Linked DNA regions of Homo sapiens. The protein of the gene in region 1 purifies or fractionates together with the protein of each later gene. This does not show direct contact. Each region holds a gene or a part of one and is shown on either strand. Other genes may lie near its edges. The genes, in order: GJA10 and FBXO42.

Region 1 (3,603 bases):
TCCATTTCATGTTTATAATGGGTAAGAAATGTTTAATCCCACAGTGATTTTTCAGAGAACAAAATTAAAATCATACAATATTGATTCTTGTCTTTGTAAAATATATCACCAAATATTTGTATATGACTTTGAAATGTCAAAAGTATTAAAAGAATGAAGTACACACTCCTTTTTTAGTGAGATGAGGGCAACTCAAGTTACAAATGATCCCTCCTCTGGACTGTTTTCCACACTGTGACAGAAGGACTTTCTAAACTGCAACTCTGATCCAGTCCCTCCTCTGCTCCACATCCTCCGTCAGTTCTCTATGGCTTCCCTACAGGGCCTCCATGCCCACTTCTCCAGCCTTCCCTCCCTCTGCACCCTCCTACCACCCTGTGCTCCAGCCACACACAGCTCCTCAGACAGCACTGCTATGTCTCACTCTTAGGCTTTACCTGCACTGCTCCCTCTACCAGGACAGCTTCTTTCATGTGCCCCAGTCCTTCCGGTTTTGGAAAAACTTGCCACATCTTTCAAGATTCAGCTCAAGGTAACTTCAACTATGAACTTTTCCTGACCCATCCATATGATCACTCCCTCCTTTGCTCACTCATTCCCACTAACGTGACGCCTTACACTTGATATATTTACATTTTACCTGCCTAAATTTTACTCCTACATCCTGAGTCCTTTGATGTCAGAGACTGTATTTTACCCATTTACATGCCCAGCACTTATAAGAGCGATTGATATAATAAGATTTTTCTAAGTCTATTTTATGAATTGAATTTAACTGAATGTATCGAATGAATAATTTTATCTCTCCATAAATAATCTCCCCCTCCATCTGCCTCTCTGTCAACACAAACATACATACACACCCCAGGAAGAAAGAAAGGAAAAAGAAAGCATCCAGAATGGAACAGCTCTTGTGATAGTTCCATGATCGGTAGGGCTGCCTGTCTTACCATTGATGTTCTGTGCCCAGTGACTGAAGGCAGAGGTGAGGGGCTGTTTTCCCAGTGAGGAAAATCCAAGCAGGAGCTATTCCGAGAACCAGAGCTTCCTGAGTCACTGTGCAGATGTCGCTTTTCAGACAACAATCTGGACAGAAAGCTGGCCTTGCGACTGCCTGGGCGAGATCTGTCTATCCAGACCCCACTCTCTCTCATGCTGCCTTCACTGTCTCTGCAGTGACTATGAAGATCTGTGAGAGGCTCACCTGAGGGTTCTGGGTCCTGGGACTGCTCCCAGGTTCCTACTGCAAAGGATGGACAGTTTCTAGGAGCCGTAGTTGTACCTAGCCAGGACTGAGACATTGTATTCTGCAGGCCAAATGAGGAATGGTCTGATTGCTGTCCCAGGTGCTGATTTCCAGCACTGCCAGCCCAGGGACACGGGCTGTGAACATGGAGCTGTCCGCTATGCTGATCCTTCTCAGACCAGTCCTTTTTCCCATTGGAAGGGTCTACTTCAAGTTGCCTTGGCTGTGGGATTTGCCACATGGTTTTAGACTTTGGCACATTAACTCGAATGACTTGCTGTTGATTGTTAGCTTGAAGTGGAGAGATTCTTTCAGGCAATGAAGAGCAAATCATACACTGCTGGGCCACAGAATATTTCTTCAAATGGAATGGAGGGCCTGTTTCATCCTCAATGCCCTCACTGCTGGATTTCTTATAAAGTGTCCTCATAATTTTTCTGATGCCTAGATGAAATATTTCCAGTATATTGAGTAACAAGGAAATGGCTGCAATGCTGTGCATAAAAAGCATGAAAATTGTCTTCTCAGTGGGCCTGGATACAAAGCAATCCACCGCATTGGGGCAAGGAGGTTGAGTGCATTTGTAAAGGGGGTGCATTTGAAACCCATAGAGAATATATTGGCCTATCATGAATCCTACTTCCAGCACAGATCTGGTCAAGATGTGTAAGACATAAGTACGCAGCAGACATCCTTTCAGAGGGACTTTATGGATCCTCTTCTGCTCCTCTAACCTCCTCAGTTCCCTATCTATTCTTTGCTGCTCCTCCAAGTCAAGATCTGGATTCTCCATCTGGGCTCTAAGGTGTGACTTTTTCCTCTGCCTGTCTTTCTCAAAGGCCCTGAGCCTATAAAGTGCATGGCCCATATAGACCAAAGAAGGAGAAGACACAAAGATGATCTGTAAAACCCAGAACCTGATCAAAGAGATAGGGAATGCATCATCATAACAGATATTGTTGCAACCTGGCTGCCGGGTGTTGCAGGCAAATGCTGACTGTTCATCATCCCAGACATCCTCAGCAGCCACACGAAGTACCAGCATTCGGAAGATGAAGAGGATGGTCAGCCAGATTTTCCCCACTATGGTTGAGTGGGAGTGAACTTCCTCTAGGATGCCACCCAATAAGTTCCAGTCCCCCATGGTTAAAGACTAATGTCTGAAATATACAGAAAACACTGAGGTTAATAGCACCCATGGTGGTAATATATAGACACAAGCTCAAAAATACAGCAGGTTCTTTTGTATGTCAGCAAAATTATGAAGGATCTTCCAGCCCTAATATTTATAGCCCATGCTTAAAATAGGACATTTCCAAATATATTAATTTTTGAAAAAACACTAAATACCCCTCACAATTTCAGCAGTTTACTTCTTCCTATTCTCTTTTACTCTCCCCCACAAAGCTGCCTGTTATTCTAGTATACAAATAGGTCTCCATATTTGTACAATTCATTCTAATTGCACAATTGTATTCATTTTTCTATCCACATGAGATACGCTACTTACCATACATCTGACATGATCGTAAAGGAGTCTCAATTCCTCAGGAAGTGTTCCCTACCCATCCCAAGTTGTAGTTATTTTTCCCTTTCCTGAATCCTCACAACACTATTATTAATATTAATCACCTGGGACTGTGCCTAAATGAGTTTTGTGATGGTTGTGTTCCCCTTCCTGGAAAGGTACACCCCTTGCAGATAGAGACTCTTTCTAAAGCATGTTGGTCATCGCACACACAAGGCGTCAATATATAATAGTCAATGGAATTGTCTTTTCACTTTAAAATTCTGTTCCTTGACCCTATCACCAAAATAACCATCAATAGGCAAAATAAAGTAGATCCTCATGATATATTATCCAGGGCTTTCACTGCAAGACAAAGTATAGGTAAAGAAAATACAAATCAGTCAAACCCTCAGGAACTGGCTCATATCAGGGTAGCAGTAAAGATTAGGCAGACACAGAAACAATACCAGCAATAACACATAATTACATCCATTAAGCCACATCTGGAACATCATGTTTTCATGGAATTTTTGCTAACTTAGAAGAAAAGTGAATATAAACTGCTTCTCTAGCAAGCTTAGGATCTGGGAAACAATACAGGTATAGCTGACATGAACAGGTTACTTGGTTTATCCTGAAAAACTAATGTTTTTCAAGGTTCAATAAGGTTAAAATACTTAGTAGGTTAAAGCTTTCTAAGATATGGAAGACTTCCAGATAAGAAAGATACAGAGGAAAAATAGGAAAGTATTATTAAGTTAAAATAGATAATGAGGCTGGACGTGGTGGCTCATGCCTGTAATCCTAGCACTTTGGGAGGCTGAGGTGGGTGGATCACCTGAGGTCA
Region 2 (3,822 bases), on another chromosome or scaffold:
GCAGATGGAGTACTTGGAGATATGGCCTGTACAGGACTGTCCAAAGAAGAGCCACCCACAGCTGCCGTTCCTGGAGACAAACTCCCACCATTGAGGATAGGAGAGCCGTCTCCTCTGGCTGGGGAAAGGCTCCCTTCCCGGGAACCTGAAGGAGTCTGCCTTTGAGCCCTGGGTCTCAGTGTTCCCCAGCGGCCGTTAACACAAGGAGCTTCATCCATGCTTCTTACTGGAGACTGAGAGCGGTACTCTCGGGTTTCAGGAACGAGAGCTGGAGGAGTGGCACTGATAGGTGATGGGCGAGAGTTCAAACTGGGGCTGAGTGGGGCTCTCCCACTAGGAGCCTGGCTGAAGACCACCACACACTGTCCCACCTGGAAGACAAAGGACCAGTGCTCACACTCTTCTATGATTCTGATTGTTCATTCAACTGTCAAACATTTTATCATGAGCATCTGTCATGTGCCAGACATTTTGTAGGTACCTGAGATATGAAGATGAAAATGATGTAGTCTGCCCTCTAGGCTAGAAGTCAGACATGGGAACAATCGCTGCTTTGTGTGACATATGCTATCATTAGAGATATGTATACAGAAGGGGTGGGGAGAAGGGAACAATCAATTTTTGTTAGAAGGAGAAGGGAAAGTTTCACAGACAAACAGATGCTTAAAGTTGGGACTTACTGAATGAGTAGGGCCCCTGTAAGTTTTCCCATTTAGTGAGAAATGCCAAAGGAGCTATGGCTAATGTTCACCTCTTTTGTGACACCAAGGTGTTTTCTATTTTTGTACAAATTTCTTTGTAACCTGACAAAGTAATGTGGTTTTCCACAATTTAGGACCTGTCCTCCTGCTAGCCTGTCAGCTCCCTGCTTACCCGGCAAGCTGGATGGCACCACAGTTCTGGGGCCCCATGCTCTTCATTTTCTACCTTGAGTGGCTGCCAGGCCCAAGGACCAGAATGCATGTGCAACAACCAAGCATCCTTGAATAGCTGTAAGAGAAAAAACCAATAACAAGACTCAGGTGTGATATGCGTTCCAAAACACACACACACAGAGTTGCAGTCTCAAAGCTCTCCTGTCTGGTCTTGAAAGGATGTGGACTCTTCAGAAGGATAGCAAAATCCTCAGTTAATTATTCAGTTGTGCATGCATCCACTTACGCTTTCATTCATTCATATATTACCACTGGCTTAGCACATGGAATTGTGCTTGTGACCCATGAATCAACTGAGTGGTTTTGACACTTGCCCATAATTTTATGTGTATGTATTGGGGATTGAAGGAGAGGATAAATAATACATATCCACAACTTTCTGAATCTGCTTTCTTAAATACTGTGTGAACTCTGACAGTTATCAACCTGCTTTTTTGTTCCACTGCCCTCTCCCCTTTGAAAATATGATAGCAGTAAACTTTATAGCCTAAAAAGGAAATAGGAATGGGAAGAATATAGATATGAATATTCAAGAGACAAATATCTATGATTAAAAGGATCCCCCCACAACCCTAAAAAAAAGCAGAAACAAAGGCCAGAAAATACAAAGGCTATACCCAAAAAGCATTCCTTAAATTAAAATGCCATGGAAATAGTCTTGTATACTCCTAGAAAAGAAGACAGGGGAAACAGGTTTTGAACACTTAGTAGCATGCACATGGGAATGCCACAGAAGCAATACTCACAGCATTGGGACCGCCACACCCTCCGAGGATTAAGATAGTTGCATCATCTATGACAATCTGAGGAGGGGAAGACATTGAAAATAAACCTACAAAGACACAGGTTTCTGACTTTCTATGCTTCACTGGTATATGAGAATAGCCTACCTAGCTCCCAAATGGGAATATTCTAGTTACCATAACCTCTCCATTCTCCTAAAAACATATCAATTCTGATCCCTGTGAATAAATTACTGATAATTCACCTGAAAGGATACATTCTTTGTTGATCAAATATTAACATGAATGTCAACCACATAAAATGCAGGATTCTCTTGAGAAATGACACAGCAAAGTAAATGCTTTGGGGAGGAGCATAATATAAAACCACTATAAATAATATGACCCATTAGAAGTTGAAAAATAAATACCAGTAAAAAAGAATGATACATTTTCTTTGGCTTAGTGCATATTGGCATCTTACCTGACTCCCTCCTCCCTCTCCCGTCCTAACTGAAAGACGCTACAGTGTTTGCTGAATAGTTATTTTAATTCCTGAGCACCTGAGATTGGCCACCTCGAGGATGAGGACTGGGGCCAGAGATGTTCGGCTTGGACCACGCCCACTGCTCAAGGTCAAGGACCCAGACATCATTGCTCCTGTGAATTAAGGACAGAAGGATAAAGGTAGTTAGGAGCTCCCAGGGACCATAATGGTGGCTGGGGAGTTCCACATGCCTGTGGCCCATCTGGCAAACTTGCACCATTTTCACTTTCACAGACTGTGTGGGCTGGAGCAGGTTTTAGAGATGCCCTACTCAGAGTTCAGGGGCTTCTGAACCAGAAAGAGACCATGTTGCTGAATCCCAGCTCTGTAGCCTGAACAAGTCACTTAATTTTCTCTAACTCTGACTTTATCTCTAAAATGAAAATACTGTTACTACTGTCTGAGGAGCTGATATAAAATGAAGGGACCTTTATAAAGATGCGCAGCAAAGTGTTATGCTCCTACTTAGCACTTAGGCTGTATCTTTCTTCCCCTACTTTCCCTAGAAGTCATCCTGAGACCCTCCCTCTGCTCTTTCCACGAGGCCTCATCTGAGCCACGTCTGCGGCCAGACACTAGTGCCTAATGAGATTATTTTTTTAACCATCTATTAACTGAAGTAAAAGCAGATGATTAAAAAATAGTTAATTGGTGACAGCAGGAAATAGACACTGGTTAAGCTACAGTTTTCAAAAGCAAAAACCACAAAGAAGAGAAAAAACGATTCAAAAGGCAGCTTCATCATTGTCCAGGAGTTAAAAGCTTTATCGATTCTGGCTACAAAAAGTAATTGCACAATGACTAATGAAAGCTGCAGTTTTATCAAGGACAGACTGGCATCTCTAACCCTCAAGGGACCAACATGACGAGGACAGACTCCTGGATGGCAGTCTCTCTTTCATGGTCACTTAAGGTCATTGATTCACCCACAAAAATACAGGAATAATAGTTCCAATATCTGAAATCCTAAACTCTCTCATTGGGAGAGTAGCTCCTATAATCTCTCTCCATAACTGTTTTAAAATATGAAGATGGAAATGCCCTAAGGGAGGACAGGTGTGGGATGGTCTTGCTGCTGACAGCTCATCAACTTCCACTTCAGAGCACAGGGGGAATGACCACAACTGCTGCTACCGCTGAATCAGACAGTGATACAGATGGAATGCTCTGGCTCCTGACTATGGCTTGAGCTGTCCAGTATGGCCAGAAGTGGACAGGACAGGAGGTAGGGACAATGACCTCACAGAAATGTCATGCCTGACACAGTTTTCCTGTTCCTACCCATTCCACAACCCATCCCATTTGTTTTTTTCTTTTCTTTCCTTCTTTCTTTCTTTTCATGCCCTTTACATGTGGCTCAACCAACCTATCACATTTGGAGGGCCCACCATTTCCACTTGTCCTGTCAATCTCCCCCTCTTCTCCTCTAAAGCCCAAAAGGGCAAGAGCTGGGTAATAAAGTAGAATAAGTAAAAGCATTCTGTTCTCGAAAGTTGGCCTTCTGCAGGCACAGCACAGCAGGCAAGGTGGAGGTTCCATCAGAATTTGATCCTACTGAATAGAACCATATGTCAAAGAGATTCTATATAACTATGATTTTATAGAGCAAATTTTTCAA

The links.
Region 2: the proteins of GJA10 (region 1) and FBXO42 purify together in Homo sapiens (affinity purification with mass spectrometry; one large-scale study listed by BioGRID and IntAct). This does not show direct contact.

The regions. Positions count from the first base shown.
Region 1 is NC_000006.12:89,893,256-89,896,858, reverse strand, and holds GJA10 (gap junction alpha-10 protein), read right to left. Parts: upstream 2,391-3,603; coding exon 759-2,390; 3' UTR 739-758; downstream 1-738. UniProt on the Homo sapiens protein: One gap junction consists of a cluster of closely packed pairs of transmembrane channels, the connexons, through which materials of low MW diffuse from one cell to a neighboring cell. Involved in tracer coupling between horizontal cells of the retina.
Region 2 is NC_000001.11:16,251,415-16,255,236, forward strand, and holds part of FBXO42 (F-box only protein 42), read right to left. Parts: intron 2,318-3,822; coding exon 2,221-2,317; intron 1,768-2,220; coding exon of another isoform or gene 1,739-1,767; coding exon 1,682-1,738; intron 991-1,681; coding exon 874-990; intron 372-873; coding exon 1-371. UniProt on the Homo sapiens protein: Substrate-recognition component of some SCF (SKP1-CUL1-F-box protein)-type E3 ubiquitin ligase complex. Specifically recognizes p53/TP53, promoting its ubiquitination and degradation.